7 linked regions of the Homo sapiens genome follow. The protein of the gene in region 1 interacts with the protein of each later gene in a pairwise test. Each region holds a gene or a part of one and is shown on either strand. Other genes may lie near its edges. The genes, in order: STOM, SFT2D1, LNPEP, DAGLA, CYB5B, HMOX2 and TMPO.

Region 1 (3,500 bases):
CCTTGACTCTCTAGTGCCTCTCTCTTGAATATTCTTCCACTCCACCCAACACCCTCAGAAAAATTGTATTCCTTTCTTCAAGATTCAATTCAGGTATCACCCCTGCCACCCACAGCTGCCCCTAAGAGTTTCCTTTGATTCCCTAACCTCCTTCAAAGGAGGAACCAAGTTTTTTTCCTACCTTAATCCCTGGTACCTAGTACAGTGCCTGCTGTTGAGTGATATCTCAATATTATTTGTATGATTGAATGAATTAATGGACTTGAATAATTTATTTTATTAAATTTTAAAAGATATAATTAACTTTCTGATGCCTTACTAAAGAAAATCAGCTAGTGTTATAAGATATTCTGTAGAATAACATTCCTTACAGTTATGTTAAAAAAAAGTCGTTGACAGATGTAAAATTGCTTCCTTCATCTTGTAGATCCTCACAAAGGATTCAGTGACAATTAGCGTGGATGGTGTGGTCTATTACCGCGTTCAGAATGCAACCCTGGCTGTGGCAAATATCACCAACGCTGACTCAGCAACCCGTCTTTTGGCACAAACTACTCTGAGGAATGTTCTGGGCACCAAGAATCTTTCTCAGATCCTCTCTGACAGAGAAGAAATTGCACACAACATGCAGGTGGGGAGTACGTCAATGCTGTTACCCCCCAGAAGCTGAAAAATGAAGCAAAGAGTCAATGGTTGTTTGAGAACCTTTTATTAATTCAAGTTGTGGGGGTCTGTGACCGTTTTTTTTTCTTCATAGTAAAATTTTTCAAATTTGGCAGGAGGGGACATTTTTCACATTAGCAGTTCATGAGTTCATAACACTCATGCGTACATTTTTTTAAAATTTTCTTCAGTGTGTATTTTTTTCCAGAATCAGTAATAACCTTTTTGTTTAGAACAGAGGCTATTCTGCAAGATAGTGTAGGTATTCCTAAAGCTTTATTCTGTGTGTGAGTCCCATGAATTATAACTGTTGTGCTTTCCAGTCTTTCTTGAGTAACAGATATTCAGTTAAGCATAGCTTATTCAAAAAAGATAAAGTGCTATAACTCTGGATTCTTATTATTTGTATAGACTTCATCGTGGGTAAAATCTATGATTGTATTTGATATGCACAACAACCTATGAAATAGATGTGTGGTTTCATTCCTGACATTCTAAAGGGAGGAAGTTGAAGCACAAAGGAGTAATATGACTTACACAGAGTCACATTAGCTCAGGAGTTGGCAAACTGTAGCCTACAGGCTGTAGTTTTTGTAAGTAAAGTTTGACTGGAGTATAGCCACAGCCATTTATTTATATATTATCCATGGCTGCTTTTGACTACAACAGCTGGGTTAAATAGTTGAGACAGAGACTACAAATAAACAATCACTATATGGCCCTTTTAGAAGAAGCTGCTAACCCCTGCATTAGCTTGTTAGCAACAGAATCAGGATCAGTGAGCCAGCCCCTGCGTCACCATTCGTTCCACCGTGGGGTAACTGTCTCTCCACAACTCTCCCCAGCACCTTATCTCCTCCAAATCCCAATGAATACAGCCTCTGTCAGCATCTGGGCTGGGCTGAGGAGATTTAGCTTGCCTTCTCTCTTCCTAACAGTCTACTCTGGATGATGCCACTGATGCCTGGGGAATAAAGGTGGAGCGTGTGGAAATTAAGGATGTGAAACTACCTGTGCAGCTCCAGAGAGCTATGGCTGCAGAAGCAGAAGCGTCCCGCGAGGCCCGCGCCAAGGTAACTTTTTTTTTAAACTTGTTTTTCTTACTGAGTTTTCTCTTTTATTAATAATTATAAAAAAACGTAAAACATGCTTGCTGTAAAAACTTGAAATAATCTTGAAGTGGTAAAGTTAGAAGTGAAAACCCTCCCCGTAACTTCAAATCATATTCCCCCAGAGGTCACCACTCCTAACAGTTGAGTGTATTTGGATTTTATTTGACCAGGTTTTTGGATTACTGGCTTGTTTGTTTTACAAAAGTAGGGTTATACTGCACATGTTGTTCTGCGCTCTGCTTTTTTCATTTAATATTAATATCTATGGACGTATCAGTACATGTAGAGTTACCTCATTCTTTTATGACTGTGTGTACCATACTTATTCTCCCGATTCCATATTAAGGTCAAATTAACAGTTCCAACTTCGGAGCAAGTGGGTCATCATTCCATCCATACCACCCATCTCTTACTTATTTTTGGCTTCTTTTTTGTTCTGTTTCTTTTCTCAGGCTCTTTTTCCCTTTTACTGTTTCCTATTCCTCATTCTCTCTTTTCCTCTTGTTTATATTCTCTTACTTTGACATCTGCCTTTTTTCTTCCTTCTTTTCATCATCATCTGCCTATGTCTTAACCCTGCATGGGTGGCATGGCCCCTCTGGGAGGCACTGAGGAAATATTTGTTAACCTAACCTAGAAAAGAGTATCTTTAAAGATGATAATGTGTAAAATTTCAGGGATATCTCACCAAACCCAAAGGTAGGAAGTAGGGGCAAGTCTCACCAAAATTGGAACCAGAAGGCAGTTCAGGGAACTAGTCATTCCCTTTCCTGTGCCACATCTCACTGTAGATAGCTTGTGGTGGAGAATGTCTAGCTCCCAGGTTTAGATGTCTGCCAGGTGAACACTAAAGAACACAGACCAGCCCTAATTCCACATTCACAGAAGAGACAGTCTTTTTGGTCCAACTTTGGTCAAAGTGCAAAGATAGCATAATAATATGGTTCCACAGCCCTATGCCTGTGAATGGGCTGAAGAAGAAGAGCAGTTTTCATAGGAGGAGTTGCTGTGGACTTGACAAATCTCCCAAGACACAAGGAGCAAACCAATTTGTTGTTAGAAAATAGTAGTAGCTGGTCATCACTGGCTGACCACAGAACGCTGTTCTTTTCTTAGGATGCCCTTTAAGCCACAAACTGGTCACTATAATTTCTTAGCCAGCATCAAATAGGATAGTAGCTCATTTGACATGCGACTTCAGAATTTTGCATTAACCAAAATGTTTAGGTTTTCCTGGTATGATGATTGTTGCTTTGTGATGATAACCTGGTAGTACTACAGAACCCTCTAGTGCTTTCTTTCAAAACTGTTACGTTTAGAAGATTAAATTATGTTTACGATGTTATTAAATGTGCCCTATCATCTCCTTATTTTGAAAATTAGGAATTGCTTTTAACTAGAATATGTTATTAGGCAAAAGCCTCATTTCCAAACCAGATTGAATAGTAGAATGTACCATACATATACTACGTAGAATGTCAGAGCCCAAAGGATCCTCAGAGATTATCTTCCATAGGTGGCAAACACTTAGCCCAGATGCTAGCACTCCATCCTGCTATTCCCATGCTAGTAATTAACCACAGCACTGTTTTCCTCTGAGCTTAGACTTGGCCTCAGAACCCTTCTATAGCACTCTGGGTAACAACCCTCAACTGCTTAGAGTTAGCTCTAAAAAACAAAACTTGAGGCCAAGCACAGTGGCTCACGTCTGTAATCCCAGCACTT
Region 2 (3,500 bases), on another chromosome or scaffold:
ACTCTAGGCTTTGTTCTTGTGGAGCTTACATTTTAATGAAGAAGATGTTCACATGATAAGCCAGAAAAAGATGGGATGGCATTGGTGCTGTGCAGAGAATTAAAACAGGGTGTGGCAGTAGTGACAGAGGGCTACTTTATATTGGGAGTATGAGAATCCCTCTTTGAGAATCTTTGTCGCATCTTTGGGTTGTTGTTTGTCTTAGCCCTTTTTATGCTGCAGTAACAGAATACTGTAGACTGGGCGACTTAGGAAGAATAGAAATTTTTCTCACAGTTGGAGGCCTGAAGTCCAAGGTTAAGGCACATCCATCCTGCTGATAGATGCATCCCCCAAGGGGAAGATCCCTGTGTCCTCCCAGGGCAGAAGAGGAAAGAGCAACCCCCAGGCAGCCTCTCCTCCAAGGGCCTTTGATCCCTTTCAAAGGGAGGAGTTCTCACAGCCTAGTCCGGTCTTCATACTAACACACTGAAGACACTTACATTTTGGAGAAGACACCTTCACACCATAGCATGTCTATTGGTATAGTTGTAAAGTTTCTTTATAAAGTTAAGGAAAAAAAAAATTTTAGTGAGAGATTTTAATTAAATAAAGCAACAGGGCTTCTTTTTTAAAAAAGTAGTTTATTTTTGCATAACCAGATAAATTAGTAGACCTGTACCTCAGTCACTTTATTTGTTTCAAATAGTACATGCTTTTTAATGGGACCTGTGAAGCAACTGAAGAAAATGTTTGAAGCAACAAGATTGCTTGCAACAATTGTTATGCTTGTAAGTAAATAATACATTTTTAAAACTTTTATTGAAGTATTCTTTGCACTGTTATTTTACGAATAATTGCCTGTTATGTATGTATACTTCTTTTTTTATTTTTATTTTTTTTTATTATTATACTTTAAGTTTCAGGGTTGTATGTATACTTCTTGTGTTGAATATAATAATTATATCCGGCCGGGCACGGTGGCTCACGTCTGTAATCCCAGCACTTTGGGGGGCCAAGGTGGGCGGATCACCTGATGGCAGGAGTTCAAGACCAGCCTGACCAATATAATGAAACCCCGTCTCTACTAAAAATACAAAAATTAGCCCGGTGAGGTGGCATGCACCTGTAATCCCAGCTACTTGGGAGGCTGAGACAGAATCACTTGAACCTGGGAGGTGGAGGTTGCAGTGAGCCAAGATCACACCATTGCACTCCAGACTGGCCAACAAGAGTGAAGCTCCATCTAAAAACCAAAAAAAAAATATATCCTATGTGGTTATAGAGTTCAGATGGTACAGTATTGTCTAAGACTACTGGCTGGGTAAAGCCTGCTTCTGCTGCGTATATGGCATGGTGTAGCTGCGTATTTAAATGGAGCCTAGAGCTGAGTGTGCTTTCATTTTTAAGCCCTGCTGATGGTTTCATGAGGGATTGTTAGTTTGTACCCTTTAGAGGGTGGGCATAGACACCCTCTATGCTGAGGGTGAGATTTAGCATCATTTGTCATCTGACTTTTGTCCCTTCTCTGTGTGCCAACTTGACAAATTCTAACAATATGGCTCCCGTAACAGTATCTTTAAAGGTGCCTTCCATTACATTGTGGGTTCTGTCCACAACTCTCAGGTCATCACTCTTATTATCTTGAGCCTGGGTGGCGGGTAGATGAGAGCTTACACTTTGGCTAGTAAGGTTGTTTCCATTCTCATACGTGCTGGGTGTTCAGCTGATCATCGTTTTGTGTATTGTGGGCAGGAGGGGGACCCAAATCTCTTCTGCATCCTGCCTCTGCCTCCTAACTCACCTGGTCTGTGTCTCTTGTGGATTTCTTTTGCCTTCAAGCATTTATGATATTTAAAGAATTTAAATGTTACCATTATAACTATTAACATTAGCTTTCCAAACACAGCTAACCTATGTTAATTTATAAGGAAATGTTTGTTAACTCTAATCTGCCTGGCAGTCTTCTCCCATCTCCTCACTAGAGTAAAAACTCATTTTTAGCTTTATTTATTATGTCTTTATTCAACTTCATAGTTTCTTACCACTTTTATAATCTCCAATTATTTTGAATTTCCTATAATAGCATATGTATCAACATATATATAAACATTTAACTTCAGATTACTAACAAAGTATATTTCACTGTTAGAATATAAGTAGTTTATATTCCACTAAGATTTTAGTTAGTTTTATTTAAGAAATCCTGGCACTTACCCCTCAAACTTTTTAGTAACATACTGTACCTTACAAAAACACACATGTTGAGAGAACGTGGGAACGTTTGAACATATAAGACGTCTCCCAAGGTGGAGCACTTTGCGTGGTTTGATTTGCTGCCCACGTAAGATCACGCCTAGTAATGGTGGTGAAGAGGCTGTGCCACATAGAGCCTTCCACATGCCAGCTTCTAGCTCAAGCCCATCACGGATGCACTCTACCTTATTCATTACAACAGCCCTTTAAAGCAGGTAGGTAGGAACTCTCCTCATTTTAAAGAGAAGACAACAGGTTTAGACGAGTCCACTGACTTCACCAAGGACCCTCAGATAGCAGGCGTCAGAGCTGGGATCTCTTTAGGTCTTTCCAACACCACACTGCCCACCTCTTGCATTCACTCCTGTGCCTGCTTGCTTTCATGGGGATGTGGAATGATCATCTTTCAGTTTACTTAACAGATTAAATTATTAGATGCTTCCAATTTGCCAAGGAATATTGCAGTCATAGACTTTAAAGTAAAATAATACTTACAGAAAATACAAGTAAAACTATTCAGCTGTATTCTTATTTTTGTTCTATAGTATATTCCCTATGTAAATGAATGCAGAATAGTTTATGCATTTTTATTAGGCTTTTGAAAGGATCTCAAACTTATAATCTACTCTTTCTTCCCCTGTAGTTGTGTTTCATATTTACCCTGTGTGCTGCTCTTTGGGTAAGTTATGTCAGCCCTACTGGCTTTCAGTTAACTGTGTGCCCCCCACCCCAGCTGACGTGTCATCACACCATTATCTTAAAATAGCTCATCTGTTTTTTTAAAACTCTCTAAAGATTAGGTGTTCCTAAAATTTGACATGTTACCATCCAGCTAGTTGCTAAAAATGCCATAGATTCTACTGTCTACAGCATAGAGGTAGTCAGTGAACACACATGTGCACACATGCTCACCCACCCAGCTGGTGGCTAAATGTGCCATAGATTCTACTGTCTGCAGCATAGAGGTAGTCAGTAAACACACATGTGCACACATGCTCACCTACCCAGCTGGTGGCTAAATGTGCCATAGATTCTGCTGTCTACAGCGTAGAGGTCATTAATAAACACACATGTGTGCCCGAGCTCACCTGCTTGTGGGCCTGGTTGGCAAATCTGACAGTGCCCGGTGTGGTGAAGGGCCCTGGCTCAGGGGCTGTGCTCTCCACCATGCTGCTGCAGGGGTGCGCTGTGAGTCTGCAGTGGTGAGGCAAGTGTGCTGCCGAGTAGCAAGGTGTAAAACCAATAGAGAGGGCCAGAAAACACAG
Region 3 (3,500 bases), on another chromosome or scaffold:
AGGCATTATAGAAGGAGAACTAAAGGCAAGAACTTTCAAGTTCCCATTGCAATTATACATTTGTGTTCAATCCCAGATCTCACGCAAGAATTGAAATGCAGGGCCAGTATGCCATTTATTTTAAAAGTATTACATAGAGGGAAAATAAAATAAAAATTATTTATCTGAATAGAATTATGGATCTTGCTTGGTCTCTTTCTCCATTTAAGAAGGATCAAAAAGTTTCCTTTAGATGTAGAATACTCATTTCTAACTATTTCTCTTAATATGTCAACATACATTAGCCAAATGGTCAGCATCAGTAATTCACATATTGTTTTACAGAGTAATATGAGAGAATGTTCCAATTGCATAAAGCAGATGTCGTGAGGATTTTGTGCACAAGACAACTGATATCACTGCTACTTAAGAATAACCTCCATACTGTGTGAACTCCATCTTCCCAGAATTTCAAACTACATGCTATGAATGCTAAGATTAAAGTACTAAATATATAGTCCAAATAGGGAGCTGAATAATTTTATATTTTGTCTCACCTTTTTTTCTGAACCAAATTAAGTCTCTCCTAGACCTTAAAAAAAATTTACACCAGAAATCCAAAATAGACTGGCATTTTAAAAAATAATAAACCAGTAAAGATTAAGGATATTAAAAATGATATATGTAAGCACACCACACTTCACACTTCTTCATGCCCTCTTTCTGTATTTCACTAAGTACCTCCTAAAAGTTCTGCACATTAGGAAAATAGGTCTTAAAGAATAACTCCTCTTTACTCTGCTTCCCAACAGACTTCATGAGGTGACAGAAAACTAGATTCACCTTAAAAATGTGAAAAACTCAAGATAACAAGTTTTGGATATAATCTTTATCCATCCTTTTCCACCAGCACACCCCTATCTCCACCCCACCATGATATATGCTCAAGGCGTTGACTAAGAGAGATAATATATTGTTCTAAATCACCATTCTACTATTTTGTATATAACTTCCTAAATTAAAAAAAAAAATCACAATTCGTGTCTCTGGTGTGGACAAAGGGATCTATATTGCAGAAGTTATCAGAGCGTAAAACCAGAATCATTTAAGAGGGCTACCTACTTTTTCTCATTACTTTCATCTGTGTAGGAGAAGCCATAAAACCCATAATAAGAACTAGATATATTTGCCGAGTACTCTATCTTCAACGTATAATTGTGCCCTGCTAGAAGGGCTTCGGGGGCAACAATGGCGATCTGTCCATGATATGCATATTCCAGGATCTCAGCTTGTTTTTCTTGGCTTGAAACTGCTGACATAAAGGTCACTCTTGAAATATTATGACCTGTGCTATGAAGAATGATATTCCATGTGACCTGAAGAGCCTGAACTGAAATTGTCACAGAACCCCTGAATGTCATCGAGGTTAGGTTCGGGTGTAGGCTGAGTTCATAGCGTAGTGGCACAACGGCAGTGGGAAGCCTGATCTGTGCCCATGGAAACAATTTCCCATTTGTTGCAAATGGCTGAATTAGTCCAATTGACTGGTTTTTTTTATGGCAGCCTTCTTTGGTAAAGGTACATCTGGGCAGTAAGTAAATCACCATGATTACAGAAACAGCAACCACGATGACAAAAGCACAGACCACCATGGTCCTTGCAGAGGGTACTGAACAAGCCCCATCTGGGCTCTGCCTGTAACCAGTTGCACTGTTCCGAAGGCCTGAGCTTCTATTCATGAAGGACATGCCCAGCAGCTTTGCTGATGACTCATAATCCTCTTCATCCTCCTCCATCTCATGCTCACCAAGACCCCGCACCAGCAGTCGGGAACCCCGGGGCTCATATTCCACCTCATCAGGCTCTAGAGGATGTAAACAAGGCTCTTTGGCTAAATCCACCACATCTGGTTCTTCCTCAAACATGCTGTTTTCAATCATATTCCTGGGGAGCTGAAGCCGATCTAAAAAACCAAAACATAAGAACAAGGCACAGAGTTAGAAAAAAAAAAGCTCATAATATTAATAACATGTCTTCTACCTAGACCACATTTAAACTAAGAATTTTTTTAAGTCACTAAGACTTATTTCCATCTCAGAGCTACTGAATTAAATAAGATGTTTATACCATTGAGTCATCCATTAAAAACTAAAACATAAATAAAAGTATACCACAGTTATGAAACAAGAAAGCTAAATAAACAGGCTATTATATTTTTAAAAAGTTAGCTGAGATAATATACTAATTTCCTTAATATACTCCTGCCCCACAACCTGGGACCCTGCCCTGGGCTTGAGAGGGCACTGTTTTGGCATTCCTCTGACTATGTCTGTCCCCACCAGGCGAGGAGTCAGTAGGATCAAAGGGATGTGCCCACCTACAGTCCACGGTTCCCCTTCTAGGGTTTGGGCACTGCAATCCCAGAATTTCTGTCCAACAGGCCTCAAATCTGCTTCCAAGGTATTTGTGGGTCTCATCCCTGAGTCTCATTCTCTCTAGGGAGCACCACAAGCTGGTATGCCCATTTCTAAGATTGAGTATGGCTAAGCAACAGGATGGGTTATTGTTTTCCCCTGAAAGAGGAATGTTTCTGTCCCACAGCAAATGGGAAGCAGCAAATTATATGGGAAATTTCCATAAGCAAGAAATGATTTTTAAAAAGATCAAAAGACAATAAAAGTCAGATAAAATTATAATTCAATCTGTTTTTCATGCTTCCATGGCTTTCAGAAGTACAACATATTTCCATGGGAAACAACCATACTGCACACCATGAGTGTTAGTGGATCTCAGTGGGAGCTTTTACAAACTACAACAAACCACACCTTCCGATTTGCCAAAATCACTGAGAAAAAAGACTCTAGAAGTAGAAGGGTCGATAATCCCCCATATATCAGTACTTCCTAGGATTAGATCGTTCAATGTTTTTTATTTAAAATTCATACAATTTTAGTTTTTAAGGGATCTCAAAAGTTATCAAATTGAAACCTCCACTAATCTTCCCTACAAGGGAAGATACTTTATACCTATCATTTCTAACCCTTACAACAATCCTATAAAATGGCAAGTATTCTATTTTAGACATGAGAAAATAGAAAAAGAGAAATAGATTAATTCGTCTTCATAAAGTCACACAGCTATTTAGTCATAAAACTGATATTAAAGCACAGGTCTAAAAATTTGATTCAAAAGTTTATGCTCTTTTCATTATATTGCATCCCTCTACTCAAACTAATTCAATAAAAGATGAGAGCCCTGAATTATTTATTTCATACCTGGCAATGAAGTTGCTAAGAGTATTATTTCACCATCAGGAGAGCAAAGCTTACAAAAAACTACTGAATATCTAGCTTAAGATAAATGCTATGTATTTTGTGCTATTCAACAAACACTGTAATGGTGGAAACTCTTCATCCATAAAACATATTATTGATAAATATTAGGATAAAATTTGCAGTTTTGCTGTTCAGTGTGGCCTGTGACCCTGCAGCATTTGCATCACATTGCAGCTTGTTAGAAAC
Region 4 (4,133 bases), on another chromosome or scaffold:
TCCTCGGGGAGCAAGGATGTGAAACAGGTTGCTGGCTAAGGCAGACACCCGCATGGAATGCTGAAGAAACGGCCTGGGTGAGAGAAAAACAGGACTTCCAGCGCCATGGGGCAGGGTCTGCAACTCAGGCTCTGCAGCTTGTTGTCGGGAATTAGGCTCCTGGTGGCAGAGAGCAAAGCACTGTGCAGCCACCCTCATCCTCCCCACCTGGGAAGGCACTTCAGCCAGAAGTGGGGCCACATTGGGAGAGGTGCCACACCTGTCTGCCCTCAGAGGTGCCTGTAGCCCCCTTTCCTTTCCCCTATGTGTCTGAGGGCATCCTCCACACCTCCCCCCCCCGTCCCCCTGCCATCCAGCCTCAACCTCCCGCAGAACCATCCAGACCTGAGCCACATCGATCTGTGGATGCTCTGACCCACTTCATTTCCTTCAGGCCACAGCCCAAAAGACGCTGATGTGACTGCTCCCCACCCCCGTTCTCAGAACCCAGAGCCAAAGGAAATTCTCCAGAGAAAACACACACACTTCCCAAGTCTTCCTCCCACACAGGTACCCTAGATCTGTCAGCCACAGACACCTCCCAGACCTACCCTGGCAATGAGGCACGTCTGCTGCCCAAGCAAAGTGCTTCCTCCTGCTTGGGCCACTCCTGCAGGACTTCACAGCTGCCGGGGCCATGCTCAGGACTGTCCTCTGGAGACCGGGGGCCTGGTTCCAGCTCAGCAGCTGACTCACAGTGTCAACAGATCCCACTTGCCCCCACCGGGAGCATGTGCGCTCAGGGCCTCTAATTCCCTATGACAGGCCCTCAACCTTCCGGCTCCCTTCCTCCCAATCACATCCCGTGCCACCATTTCCTATGGCTCCTGCCTCCAGCCCTGGTCTCTTTACTTGATGAGACTCTCTGACCTTTGTACAGTCTTTCGCTGTTTGCAAAGTGTTTCCACGTGCACCATTTCCTTTCATTCTTTACTACCAGACCACCATGTGACATGCCTTGATTGGTGAAGTCACCTGCTGAAGGTCACACAGCCAACACTGGAATTAAAGTGATATGGCTCCAAAGGCATCGGACAGTGCTCCGGTTATAGGGAACTCATCAGCATCTCCAAGCACCCACCTTGGCAATTTGGCGACCACCTGCCACCCTACCCTCAACATCATCTTTTTGGACTCATAAGTGCCTTCCCCAGCACAAGCTCAACCCTGTGATTCTTCTACCACTGATCCCACTCCCCCAAGAGATCCACAAAGAACTGAAGATTTCCCCTACACTGTAAGACTTCTCTAGGAGGAGCTGCAAATTGCTTCTCTGTAAAGTAAGGCACTAGGTGATGCTGAGTGAGACCTTCACCCAAAGCTTCCCAAAGGACTGGTGAGAGCAAACACAATCTCAGCGCAGATGGAGGGGTTTTAACATAGGAGCTAAGCAGAGAGGACAGACAGAGCCCTTGGAAAGGAATTTAAGCCTGGGGGTGGGAGTCCCGGTGGCCCCAGCAGATTCCCAGTGGCTGCAGAATCATCTTTCAAGCATACCCCAATCGATCCAATCCTCTGGACCCAAAGGCTCCCCAGCATCAAAGAAGAGAGGCAACTCCCAGATACCCTGGAGTGAACCCATCAACCCAGGGAGAAGGCAGGACCCCGTGACTACAGATAGATGGTGCGCCATACCACTCCCTCACTCGCTGACCCGGGTTACCTCTTGGTCCTGCTTGCTTCTCAGGACATATTCTGGGACACCGATCACCACTGAAAATCATCCACCCCTCCCTTCATTCCCAAAGCTAGATGAAAAGCTAGATGAATGGTTCTCTCTACCTTAGCCCAGGACAACGGTAGTGCCTGGAAGGTCTCTATCTGGGTTACCATCAGGGCCCTTGTGGTAGAAGCTTCTCCTGGCATCTCTTGTTTATGCCCATTATAAAGGACACCAACCTTCTCCCAGCCTTCTGCCCTCCTCAGTCCAGTGTACCCAACAGGCATTAAAACTGGACCCCCATGACAGAGGCAGTGTCCCCTTCATCGCCCGTGAGGAAGGATGGGCATTTACCCTTCCCATTCATCAGGATGGGAGGGCCACGGACTCCCCCCGCGGCAGTGCCGGGTAGCCCCCCGCACCACACCGTGCCAAGGCCCTTTCTCACAGTCATGCCAGGAACTCTAGCCATGCTGAGAACACCAATTCTTCAAGCCCCCAGTGCTATCACCCCAGATCATGTCAAGCCCAAGGCCAGAACCATCCCAACACCCAAGCAATGGCAGCACTTCCTCACACCCATGCTAGCGGCACCACCATGCCGGCACGAGCTGGCCACCTATCCCATAACCAGTCCGAAGGCCGTGCCCATCACCTACCTGTGCAGACAGCTGCACCACCTCACACCTGCGTGGCCACCACCGCACCAAGGTGGAGGCGAGTCTTCTGAGACCCGTTCCAGGAAAACCACGCCGCCTGTGCCGGACCCACGTTGCCCACGCCCGTGCCACGCGTGTCACCATCCCCACGCTGGTGCCAGGGGCTCCACAGACCTCACACCTGCCACGGGCGCGCGTGGCAGCTGCAACTCCGCCCGCCGACCCGTCGGGCCGGCCACCGCGCGCCCTGGACACTGCCCAGCCCGCCGCGCCGCTCGCACCGCGCCCGCGCCCAGGACCGGCCCGCCGCGCCGGAGGCCCCCCTTACCTCCCGCCCGCCGCAGGGCTCGGCCCGCCGCCGCGACCGCCACCTCCATCCTGGGCTCCCCAAGGCCCCGATTCACTAACGCCGCTTCCGCAGGGCGCCGGCGCCGGCGCGAAGGCCGCCTCCGCCCCCCGGGGGACGCTGCGTCCTTTACGTAAACCCCTCTCCGCCGCCAGCGGTGACCATGGCGACGGTCGTGGGGAGGCAGCGCCCCCTGGCGCCAGGGAGGGGAGCGGCGTCGAGGCCAGGGAGAGCCGAGTCTTCCGCGGGCGCCGGCCCTGCGCGTGGGGGCGGTGGGCGCCTGGCTCAGGCTCGGCTGGGGTCCCGTGGGCGGCCGGGAGGGGCTGGACTGGCCGCGATGCGTGCGGGGAAGGGAGCCGCCTGGGTGCCTGCCCCTCCTTTAGGTCCCTCGTGACCAGTTTTAGCGTGGGAGAGGGAAAAAAGGAAGTAGGATCACTGGAGAACTGGTTCATTTGTGGGGAGGAGAGAGACGGGTCCCACCTCCTCGGGGTGACTGAACTCTGCTTGAGAAGTCAGAGCATGGCTAGAGTTCCTGGCGTGACTGTGAGAAAGGGCCTTGGCACGGTGTGGTGCAGGGGTCTACCCGGCACTGCCGTGGGGGGAGTCCGTGGCCCTCCCATCCTGATGAATGGGAAGGGTAAATGCCCATCCTTCCCCACGGGCGACAGAGCCCGTGGGTACCCTGGGTACCCCCTCCTCCCTACCACCCCCCCACCCCCCACCCCTACCCCCGTTCCCAGTGCCCAGCATCGTGCCTGGTCTCCAAAGGGGTTTACTTGGTCAATTTTGAATTTCTGGTAAATGAAGAAAACCGCCCCTCCTGTTCCCCTTCACGCCCTTTCATTCACCGTAAGTCGCTTACACCTCCCTGGGAGCACTGTGCTGAACTGGGGGAGTGGAGCACAGAGAGGAGCAGAAGGCGGGCCCTGACTTCAAGGAGCTCATTCTGCTGGGGAGGAGACGCAGATGGAGGGGGTTTTAACACAGAAGCTAAGCCGAGAGGACAGACAGAGCCCTTGGAAAGGAATTTAAGCCTGGGGATGGGAGTCCAGTCTGCAGGTCGGGATGACTCAGCTGGGTCCCAAAGATCCAGTAAAGATTCATCAGAGACAAAAAGGGGAAGAACGTTTTCTTTCAGGCAAGAGAAGTGCCTCTAAAATGTTTCCTAGGCCCTGTTGCCACCCCCAAAATCACAGTGATCGCGCAGTTCAGTAGAAGTGGGAGCCATAGGTGAACAAGGAGGTGTGGGTAGTGGGGTGCCCGGCTTGAGCAGAAGCCTCGGTCTGAAAATTACGTGGACATTTGGGTTGGAAATGAGACTGTGAGGCCAGGACTGCCTTTTATTGAAGCAGATGGAGCCACTTCTGGAAGGAGTTCTGTGTTACCTGTGATTATTTAGAAAGCAAACTCACGTAGGTAACAAGGAAAA
Region 5 (3,500 bases), on another chromosome or scaffold:
CTGGCAGGATTCGAGGAGAGGGCACTTCTGCAGCCCCCAAGCAAGTCTCTAGTTTTCGCCCCAAAGTGGATGCACTTTCTAACTTCAGCAAGGCCTCCTCAGGAGGATTTGCTTTCCGATGTGTAGTAGCGGTACAGGAAACCTAAGAGAACAGCGCCTATGATGGGTAAAATCCAATATGCCCAGCAACTAGGAATAGGGGGAGAAAGCAATAAAGTTGTTAATATTTTAAGCCAAATGTTCACTATCTTTCAGCTTTCACATGTTTTTATATAGGCAAGGAGTTTTTATTTACTTTGGGAAATTTAACTGCTTTTATCACAAAGTAGTTGGGGAAAAATATTTGAATTGGAGTGACAATATTACAAAGTAATTTTTTAAAAGGTTAAAAACAACCAATAGTATGATATCAAATAAGATGTCTTTAAATGCCTCTATATGTGTTTCTACAAAGTCATATAGTGGTTATTTCTGAGTTAGGGATTATGGATACTCTCACATTTTCTTCATTGTGCTTTTGCTTTTCACGTATTCTACAATTAAACATTTTTAAACAGGAAAAAACACCATTATGTATGTGACATTTCATATATGTATAAAAACATATCCATCCCAATATAAATTTGGAAGTAATCATATCTAATATAACTACCAGAAATATCCTATCTGCTTCATATGTATTTTAAAGATTTAATCCTTATGAAATAGGATAACCTACGAAATAGGGTTATTATTCTCATCTCATACAAGGGAAATATAAGCTTTGCACCCCAAATCCCAAAGCTAGAAAGGCAGCTGGACAGTCTGATTCCAAACCCATCCTCTTAATCCCTAGTTAAGTTTGGACACTAATAAGGATACACATACACACAAAGCATATACAGTTCTAACAGGGTGAAGCAAATGGCAGCTTCAAAAGTACTGCAAGAGACCTTCCTTAGGAGCTTCAGAACAGTCATCATTCTCCTTAACATAATAATTCTTTAATAGAACTTATTAGCACACTAGTTTTAAGGTATAATTCTTCCATGATCCAAATGACCCGGCTGCCCCTCTACTTAAGACATATGAGTCTTGGTATTAAAAGGTTTTGAAGTCAATAAAACGAGCTGAAGTTCATAAGAAAAATGATTCTCTTTGCCTAAACATGCCTAGCACTCTGTATGCTTACGTACAGCAGAAAGCTACTCTGGACTAGTTTAGAATATCAGCCAGGTAGCTTTGTTTACAAAACCAAGCAATATGGCACGTATAACAGCAATATGCACATGGGAACTCTGAAGTAATCTCCTGATAAGAGTAATGAATTCAGACTCCTTGAAGAGTAACCGCAAGAGACTGAAGAATCCAAAAGTAGGATCCTTGAGAAAACATTGAAGGAGAAAATTTCTTTCTTTCTTTCTTTTTTTTTTTTTTGAGACGGAGTCTCATTGTCACCCAGGCCGGAGTGCGGTGGCGCGATCTTGGCTCACTGCAAGCTCCACCTCTGGGGTTCACGCCATTCTTCTGTCTCAGCCCGTCCTCGTGATCCACCCACCTCGGCCTCCCAGTTTGCTGAGACTACAGGCATGAGCCACCACGCCGGCCAGAAAATTTCTTTAGTACAAAAGACTGAGAATGGTTGACACCAATCCTCACATAATCTTTCCTAATACTTAACTGCCACTGAGGAGAGAACCAGAGGAAATACATTTATACTGCATCACAGGAGATTCAGGTTCAACAATAACTTCCTACCATAAGACAGATTTTTCTTCTTGGAGATCCATCTAGACTACTACATGTTTGTGATTCCTTTATTTTTATTGTTTTGTAGTATTCCATTGTATGAATATACCACAATTTATTAGGGTTGTCTCTGATGTTTGAATATCTCGAATAACACTGCTATGAACATTCTTGCATATATTTCTGGGTGTACCTGGGCACACATTTCTATCAAGTATATCATTAGAAATGGAATTGCTGGGTCAAAAGTTAAGTCATCCTATCAAATTTACTAGATAATGCCAAACTGTTTTCCAAAGTGATTATACTCATTTACATTACCCTAGGAGTGCTTAAGAGTCGGTGATAAACTTTCCAACCAACTCTTATTTGCAAAATTTTTAATTTTTACCAATCTGGTTAGGTATGAAATATACCTATGATTTTAATTCACATATCACTAATGATGAATGAGATTAAACCTCATTTCCATATGTTTACATTTGTGTTTCCTTTTCTGTAAAGTGCTTAAATCTTTTTCTCATATTCTACTGAGGTTTTAAAAAACTGATTTGTAGGAATTCTTTATATCTTCTACCTAATAATTCTTTATCAGTTTTATGCTTTGCTTAAGTCTAAGTTTTATAGCATAAGCATAAGGTTTGGTTTTTTTTTTTGAGATGGAGTTTCGTTCTCGTTGCCCAGGCTGGAGTGCAATGGAGCGATCTTGGCTCACTGCAACCTCCACCTCCCAAGGTTCAAGCGATTCTCCTGCCTTGGCCTCCCAAAGCTCGCACCACCATGCCCAGCTAATTTTGTATTTTTAGCAGAGATGGGGTTTCGCCATGTTGTCCAGGCTGGTCTCGAACTCCTGACCTCATGATCCACCCGCCTCAGCCTCCCAAAGTGCTGGGATTACAAGCGTGAGCCACCGCGCCCGGCCCTGCATAAGCATAAGTTTTGTTTAAAATCTGCAATTTTGTGGCTTGTATTTTCAAAATTTTTATGCAGCATTTCGCTGATCCTAAGCCCTTAATATTAAGGAAACTAAATTTACTAATAGTTTGTAATTTTTTATACTGTGTCCGTTACCTCAAGTAATAGATCTGATACTTTATGGGAAAAAAAGACATATTTTCTTTCTCTGAAATACTTCGAGATGTCCAAAAAATAGAATGGCTAGCTCTATATAATCTCCACAAAGATACTGTACAAGCCAAGGATTCCACAGTCATTTTAGATAGAGGCACTTAAGGTAAGGCAATTTATAACTTTCAGAGCTAATACTAATGAATTACTAATATTAATGCCAAGGAATATATTGTAAATAAACCTGAGAAAACCCAAATTCCTAAATATGACCGTAGTATTTTTTTCTCCTGCAATATGTAATAATAGCACTTACCTTACAGAGTGGTTGTGAGAAGTAAATGCGATTAAGTTTTAAGTAGAATCATGTAGCTGGGTTGAACTTCGGGACTAAAGGCTGACCCAATAGTAGCTACCTGTCCATGCATCCTGGCCTCTTACTGAGTGTGATTCCAATTTATGTCACAATAAGATTAAAAAATGACTCAAGGCATGAAACTTTTAGATTATTCAAAATGGCTGAAACTGTAAAAGTTAATTTTTCTAATGTCAAGGAACAACTGAATTTGCAATGATTTGGGCCAAAAAAGAATTAGTTGTCAAACTGCACTCATAAGTTATGTTACATACATATACTTATGGAAGAGTCTCTTGCCAGACATTACCTTGAACGTATGGAAAGCTGTTAAGGAGATACTAACCTT
Region 6 (3,500 bases), on another chromosome or scaffold:
TCTCGGCTCACTGTAACCTCCGCCTCCCAGGTTCAAGTGACTCTCCCACCTCAGCCTCCCAAGTAGCTGGGAGTACAGGCACGCGCCACCACACCCGGCTAATTTTTGTATTCTTAGTAGAGACAGGGTTTCACCATGTTGGCCAGGCTGGTCTCAAACTCCTGGCCTCAAGTGATCCACCTGCCTCGGCCTCCCAAAGTGCTGGGATTACAGACATGAGCCACTGTACCCAGCCGAGAGCCAGAGCTTAACGTCAAGAAGGAATGGAGTGTGGAGAAAAGCCCAGCTTTTCCCTCAGAGTGGCTCCAGGGGCACTTTTCTCATGGGACCAAGGCCCCCACCCCAACCCCATATGACAGTCTGGAACCCAATGCGGGGCACAAACCTTAAACAGCTCCTTCTTAATGTTGCCTTTCAAGAAGTCCTTGACAAACTGGGTGTTTTCTGCCCGGTCGTGTGCTTCCTTGGTCCCTTCCTTCAGGAGCTCCGAGAGGTCAGCCATTCTGTGGAGAGATGGGAGGTGTTTGTGTGTCAATTAGCCCTTCCCAGCTTTCCAGAAAGGACCATAGAGAGAAGATTGAGTCCACACCCCAAGGTGACCACCTGTTGTACTGGAGGCTGGGGCTTCTCAGACACTTCACTCCAACACAAATAGCAGCAACTTGTCAGGGAACACAGGACAAGCAGACATGACATTCTGCTCCAAGGACTCAGGACACAAGGGATAACTGTGGCCTGCTCCTTGAGAGTAGTACCCACGTCCATGTGTCTGTGTTGGGAACCACCCAAATGAGCAATGCTTTGCTTCTGTGGCCACCTAGTGGTCGAAGAGACACACATCTGTATTCCCTTCAGTATTTGCTGGCTTCTCTAAGAACAGCCTGCCTTGGAACGTGTCTTCTGGAATTCACACACCTCAGTAAGGCTGTGACCATGGGTCTCCTCAGATGGCCCTACTGCCTTCCTCCCACCTTGGACCCACAGCTTCTTTGAGACTATATGTGACTAGGACCAAGCACGGAAGGATGCAAAGGAGACAACCGAGAGGCTAGGGCCAGGACGCTGGGTTTGTGCTGCTTAACGAAATTACACAGTTGTAAAGGTGTGTGGATGGATGGACAAGGTAGAAAACATGTGATCCTAAAGATGGTGGTACTTGGGCAGGGGCTTACATGTGTCCACACAATCCATCTACAAGAGTGAGAAAAATTTGGCCTTATCATGGTCTGGCTTCTGCTGTCTTCTTTAGGAGATTAGCTCGTTATCATCCATGTGCTGAGAATCAATTTATTATTAGCAATTATTTCAAGGGATAAAAAAAAAACTTGGCCAATGACAGGGCTATGAGAGGCTAATGATGCAGAACAGGGCCTGGAAGCTCAGGTTTAGCATGAGCTGTCCCTATACAGAGTAAGGAAAGGCTGCCCTGCAGTCTTTTATGTGGTAAAAGACTGAACAGAGCCAGCTTTGCCTGCGTTTACCCTTTCTCAGCCCAGATGAGGAAACGCACAAGTTTTTAAAAAGAAAAAAGGATAACTACCATCAAATCCTATCAGCACTCCCAGGAGCACCTGCCCTGCCTCCTTGGATGAGACAATGGACCAGTGGGGAGAGTTCTAAGCAGCCGAAGCTGTATGCGGTCCCTGCAGGGCCAAGCAGGCACCCAGGGGTCCAGAGCTCATGGCCCATGGCCACTCCCCAGTGCTGCCAACAGACAAAACCAGGTGTGCTGAGCACGACAGGTGCTGGGCCCACCTGATTCAGTGCAGCCAGCCCCCATCGCTCACCTCATTTGGTTCTCCTTTTCTAGGGCCCCAGAGTTCTTTTTTTCTGACTCGTCTACCCCCTCTGAGGTTTCCACTTCCGCTGACATTGCTGCTGGGTGTGGTTCTTGCTGCTCTCGCTCCTCTGGTCCTGCAGAGACACAAGGAGCTGGTGATGTGGCACCCACGGCAGTCACTTCCCCAAATACCTGTCGGTTCTGCTTTCCTCAGAGCGAATGTAACCAAGGTGACACCCACACACCCCAGGATTGTTTTCTTTAAAATAAAGCTCTGCCATTACTGGGACCATAGTGGAATATGGAAAAAATCTGAATATGAACAATGTATTAGGTAATAGCATTGTATTGACATTAAGCTTGCTGGTTTTTAAAAATAATTGTACTGCGATTATATAAGAGAATGTCTTTGTTCCTAAGAAATACACACTGGGGTATTCAGAAGTAAAGGTACACTGCCTGCAACTCCCTGTCAGATGGTTCAGAAGACAGTGTGTGTGCATGTGCATATGCTGCAGGGTGGGGGACACTGGCAAGTCAGAAAAGCAAACAAGGCAAAATCCTAGCAGTGAATCTGGGGAAGAGGTATGAGAGTTCTTTGTACTATTCTTACCATTTTTCTGTATGCTTAAAACTGTATCAAGGCAGGGCACAGTGGCTCATGCCTGTAATCCCAGCACTTTGGGAGGCCGAGGCAGACTGGAGTTTGAGACTAGCCTGGTTAACATGGTGAAACCCTGTCTCTACTAAAAATACAAAAAATAGCCGGGCATGGTGGTGCACACTTGTAATCCCAGCTACTCGGGAGGCTCAGGCAGGAGAATCTCTTGAGCCCAGGAGGCAGAGGTTGCAGTGAGCCGAGATCACGCCGTTGCACTCCAGCCTGGGCAACAAGAGCGAAACTGTCTTAAAAAAAAAAAAAAAAAAAAAAAAAAGACCGTATCAAAATTAAAAGTTAGGCCAGACACGGTGGCTCATGCCTGTAATCCCACCACTTTGGGAGGCCAAGGTGGGTGGATCACCTGAGGTTAGGAGTTTAAGACCAGCCTGACCAACATGGAGAAACCCTGTTTCTACTAAAAATGCAAAATTAGCCGGATGTGGTGGCGCGTGCCTGTAATCCCAGCTACTCAGGAGGCTGAGGCAGGAGAATCACTTGAACCTACGAAGCAGAAGTTGCAGTGAGCCAAGATCGCGCCACTGCACTCCAGCCTGGGCAATAAGAGTGAAACTCTGTCCAAAAAAAAAAAAAAAAAAAAAAAATTGAAAGTTACCAAAAACAAAGAAAACCTCAAAAACCTTAGGGAAACAAAAAGCTTGGCAAGCAACGCACAGTTCCACCCCTCTGCAAGCGTGCTGAGGCCAGTTCATCCTACCTGTGAGAGGCTGGGTGCCTTGTGCAGAAGGCAGCCTACAGGAGTTACCAAAAAAGCAGACTGTCCCTAGCCTACTCAGGACTTTGCTAGGCTGAAGGAAATATTAAGTTGGCCAATCAATTCCCATTGCCTGCTGCAAATGCTGAGCCTTTGTCAGCCAGGGAAACACAGTCCCATAACAAGGCAAGCTCATCCTCCATCCCTCGGGGCTTCTGCTCAGGCAATGTAAGGCGCAGCCCATTTGGGGAATCTTCCACATGAATAGCAGCACAGTAGCACCGACAACTAATAAAGTAACTCACAAAGACAGAACTGGGGCCAAATCAGGCCAAACTGGGCCAAGG
Region 7 (3,500 bases), on another chromosome or scaffold:
GACTACAGGCATGTACCATTGTACCTGGCTCCAAAAAAACAGCTTAATTCTGAGCAGAAGTACAGTAACTTTGTGATGAAGAATTAAAAATAAAGATTCCCTACTAGAATACACTAGTACTTGTTTAAATGTATCTGAATACCTAATTCCTGTTGGTGTAGATGCTTCATAGGGGAACATTTCCTTAAGAATATCCCTTTCTACTCTTCTTTCCTCTGTTTTTTCTCCCACCTAATAAGAAACAGACAAACAAACAACCACAAGTTAAAATTTAGTGTAAACATGCAATAATTAAAACATAAATAGTAAGTTTTAGAGAACAAAATGCCTTTAAATCTATCATAGATTTTACAGCTGCCATTTCTAAATTATTATTTAGGTATCCACATGCTTCCAAGGCTCTCTTCAAATTTCTTGAAGATACCTTATATATGTGGTTATTGGAGTGAAAAACTGCCACACATTTAAATAACTGGGGGGAAAAAATTCAGTAATCTAACATGGCAATGCTAATTCCCTCATTGATTTTGTTTTTTACTATTAAGAGTATATTGTTGGGCCGGGTACGGTGGCTCACGCCTGTAATCCCAGCACTTTGGGAGGCTGAGGCGGGTGGATCACCTGAGGTCAGGAGTTCGAGACCAGCCTGACCAACATAGTGAAATCCCATCTCTACTAAAAATACAAAAATTAGCTGGGCGTGGTGGCGGGCACCCGTAATCCCAGCTACTCAGGAGGCTGAGGCAGGAGAATCGCTTGAACCCAGGAGGCGGAGGTTGCAGTGAGCTGAGACCGTGCCACTGCACTCCAGCCTGGGCAACAGAGCAAGACTCCGTTTCAAAAAAAAAAAAGTATACTGTTTCTTCATTTATTAAGAATTCTGTAGTAAAAGATAAAATACAGAAGATACTTAACATGAACCTTTAGCAAACTTTACTATATGTTTTAAAATTATAGTCAATGCAATATGCCCAAATTAAAAAAAATATAATGTTTAGCTTGTTTTACTGTTTACCTTTATGTCCAGAACAAAATAATAAATGTTTCGGCTCCTTTTGTAAAGATTCATTCAAATTAAAATGCACCATGCAGTTAGTACTTTCAAGCTTAATTACACAGGAGTTAACCCATTCCAGCACCACATGAAGTTATGTTAAAGTCTCTTATTTGACCCGTCAACAAAAGAAAGTGTAGCCTCCCTCATAGCCCAGCAGCACTTTCAAACTTGCATCCATGACAAACAGAACATATTATAAGCAGAACAGAAATGACCACTCCCTTGAAAACTGGAACTTAAGAGGGATACAGTGGCAAGAGGATAGTATTAGCATGTCAAACTATATTAGTTAATTTCTGTTTTCACTAATAAAAGTGTCCTTAAAATAATTTATGCATATTTACACACACCACCCAATAAAGAAAGCTCTGCTCCCTCCCACTCCAAAAAAAAAAAAAAAAAACAAACAAATATTTATATTTCCTCTTTGAAAGATCAATGATAGCATCGATCTAAATTGTATTCATTTACTTCAGCTCTTGTCAATGGTTTCTTTGGTGCTCTTCTGGGTATGTCTGAGAATTCAGTGATTGGCAGAATAGGAGATGCATGCTTGAAATTTCCAGTCACCCTATTGACAACCTGCCAAGATTCAAATTATTCAGACTCAGAATTATCCAAACATAACACAGACACTTAAAAAGAAAAGAAAGATATTTTATCTCTGTAATATTAGAAATTTTCCCTTAGTAAAGATTTAAGCAACACAGCCTACAAACACAACTTAGTGCCTCACATATGAAGCCTCATTCTTCAAATATTTTAACAAAAAATATCCTTATACTTTCTTGTACAATGAATTAGATTTCTTTACATAAATTGGATATTATAGGAAAATTCTAAAATTCAGAACTATATGGGGAAAATCAGTTTAAAATTGTTAAAAAAAAAAAACATGTAAATTTGAGATTTGCCAAAATTCACCACCTCCCCATTTCCAATTAAAGGGTAATTTACAAAGAATACCACTTGTATAGTTTATGAAACATATTTACTAAGGATTCGTTGCTTGAAGCCATTATAGTTTCAGCTATGGGAGTACTCTCTGAAATTACTGGACCATCTATACGAAAATGTTCTGAAGTTTCCACCTGTTAGTTTGAAAACAAAACAAAAACAATAAATATAAAATAATACTAAAACCCTACAAATCTGAAAACCCAAGGAATAAGCCTTGCATCACCCTTTTCCTTGGAGTTCTTCTTGACCCTCTTGTAGATTCCCTAGTTAATGCCTGCAGAGGTCCGCCTTTTGAAGATCCACTTGTCCATTCAGTCTCAGTTATTCCAGCTTGAGAATAGCTCTATTCAAGCATCAACACATTAAAAAGTCATATTCTAACATCAAATACTTTAATAACGGCCATACTGGCACACTGAGAAGCCATGAAATAGAAGTCTCCAAATGCCAGCATTTACAAACAAGGCTATGTCCTCAAAATATTCCTAAATGTATTAATTGAACTGATATTTAGGCATCAGGAAACACTTAAAAAGTGCTAAAATACACTAAAGAATCCACCTATAGTAGCTCACAAATTATAAACATTATGGGAAAAAAAGCACATCAACTATCACCAGTTCCCTTTTTGACTCACTGTGTGCTATTTGGCTCTAGTATTGGAGCTACATCTCTGTCTAAACAAAAAGCAGACTGATCATGACTTAGAAAAAAGTCATCTATTATAAGTCAGTTTCCTTTTAAAACAAAAATACAAACTTTTGTAATTGTTAGCATAAACATTATTATTTTCATATGGTTATAATCATTTTAGTAGAATCAGTTTAAATTATAATCCCACATATAGCTTATTTGAACTAAAAAATTCTCAGGTGTCAAATTTTTCTTGGAAACAGATACAAAATTAGGTAGCCACAAAAACCCTGTGGTCACTCTTTAATGAATATGCAAGCCTAACGTCACTTTCAAATCTCAATGCTATCCATGTCACTACAGAAAGACAGAAAACAGCTGCCTCAGATTAATTCTCAGTCTCAGATTAATTTCTATGTTCCACTGATCATTTTTAAAGAATCCAGCATTTCTTACATACTGGTTTAAAACCCATTAGATCAGTTCTTCTTAAATTGTAATGTGCCTATCAATCACTTGAAGCTTCTGTTAAATGCAGATTCTGATTCTGTAGCTGTAGGGCCCGAAATTCCGCATTCCAAGTAGTTTAAGGTTTTCAGTTTTGAAGTCGCTATTACCAGATGATTCTTTTAAATTCTTTTAACTACAGAACATCCATCAATGATCAGTATTATAGTAGAGTGTCCTTCTGTTGTCACTTTTGCTTTCACGCCAATATTTAACCTAGATTACTGATGGTTTTAGGTCCAAGTCAATGTCTATTAAAGACAGATTTTTTTTTTAAACTTTAATCCTGTGACAGGAGTGGTCATCCAATAAATATGCCTAAATGGCTGGATGTAATACTACC

What was found.
Region 2: the proteins of STOM (region 1) and SFT2D1 interact in binary tests that used the Homo sapiens proteins (3 or more experiments, as listed by UniProt).
Region 3: the proteins of STOM (region 1) and LNPEP interact in binary tests that used the Homo sapiens proteins (3 or more experiments, as listed by UniProt).
Region 4: the proteins of STOM (region 1) and DAGLA interact in binary tests that used the Homo sapiens proteins (3 or more experiments, as listed by UniProt).
Region 5: the proteins of STOM (region 1) and CYB5B interact in binary tests that used the Homo sapiens proteins (3 or more experiments, as listed by UniProt).
Region 6: the proteins of STOM (region 1) and HMOX2 interact in binary tests that used the Homo sapiens proteins (3 or more experiments, as listed by UniProt).
Region 7: the proteins of STOM (region 1) and TMPO interact in binary tests that used the Homo sapiens proteins (3 or more experiments, as listed by UniProt).

What each region holds. Positions count from the first base shown.
Region 1 is NC_000009.12:121,346,251-121,349,750, reverse strand, and holds part of STOM (stomatin), read left to right. Parts: intron 1-427; coding exon 428-631; intron 632-1,601; coding exon 1,602-1,736; intron 1,737-3,500. UniProt on the Homo sapiens protein: Regulates ion channel activity and transmembrane ion transport. Regulates ASIC2 and ASIC3 channel activity.
Region 2 is NC_000006.12:166,325,546-166,329,045, reverse strand, and holds part of SFT2D1 (vesicle transport protein SFT2A), read left to right. Parts: intron 1-688; coding exon 689-770; intron 771-2,878; coding exon 2,879-2,914; intron 2,915-3,500. UniProt on the Homo sapiens protein: May be involved in fusion of retrograde transport vesicles derived from an endocytic compartment with the Golgi complex.
Region 3 is NC_000005.10:96,977,580-96,981,079, reverse strand, and holds part of LNPEP (leucyl-cystinyl aminopeptidase), read right to left. Parts: intron 1,943-3,500; coding exon 1,102-1,942; intron 1-1,101. UniProt on the Homo sapiens protein: Release of an N-terminal amino acid, cleaves before cysteine, leucine as well as other amino acids. Degrades peptide hormones such as oxytocin, vasopressin and angiotensin III, and plays a role in maintaining homeostasis during pregnancy.
Region 4 is NC_000011.10:61,679,058-61,683,190, reverse strand, and holds the start of DAGLA (diacylglycerol lipase-alpha), read right to left. Parts: upstream 2,801-4,133; 5' UTR 2,687-2,800; intron 2,380-2,686; exon of another isoform or gene 2,359-2,379; intron 689-2,358; exon of another isoform or gene 591-688; intron 1-590. UniProt on the Homo sapiens protein: Serine hydrolase that hydrolyzes arachidonic acid-esterified diacylglycerols (DAGs) to produce the principal endocannabinoid, 2-arachidonoylglycerol (2-AG).
Region 5 is NC_000016.10:69,459,119-69,462,618, reverse strand, and holds part of CYB5B (cytochrome b5 type B), read right to left. Parts: coding exon 3,498-3,500; intron 190-3,497; coding exon 99-189; 3' UTR 1-98. UniProt on the Homo sapiens protein: Cytochrome b5 is a membrane-bound hemoprotein functioning as an electron carrier for several membrane-bound oxygenases.
Region 6 is NC_000016.10:4,503,898-4,507,397, reverse strand, and holds part of HMOX2 (heme oxygenase 2), read right to left. Parts: intron 1,915-3,500; coding exon of another isoform or gene 1,874-1,914; coding exon 1,788-1,873; intron 504-1,787; coding exon 386-503; intron 1-385.
Region 7 is NC_000012.12:98,543,090-98,546,589, reverse strand, and holds part of TMPO (thymopoietin), read right to left. Parts: intron 2,361-3,500; coding exon 2,241-2,360; intron 2,149-2,240; coding exon 2,053-2,148; intron 1,640-2,052; coding exon 1,529-1,639; intron 232-1,528; coding exon 143-231; intron 1-142. UniProt on the Homo sapiens protein: May help direct the assembly of the nuclear lamina and thereby help maintain the structural organization of the nuclear envelope. Possible receptor for attachment of lamin filaments to the inner nuclear membrane.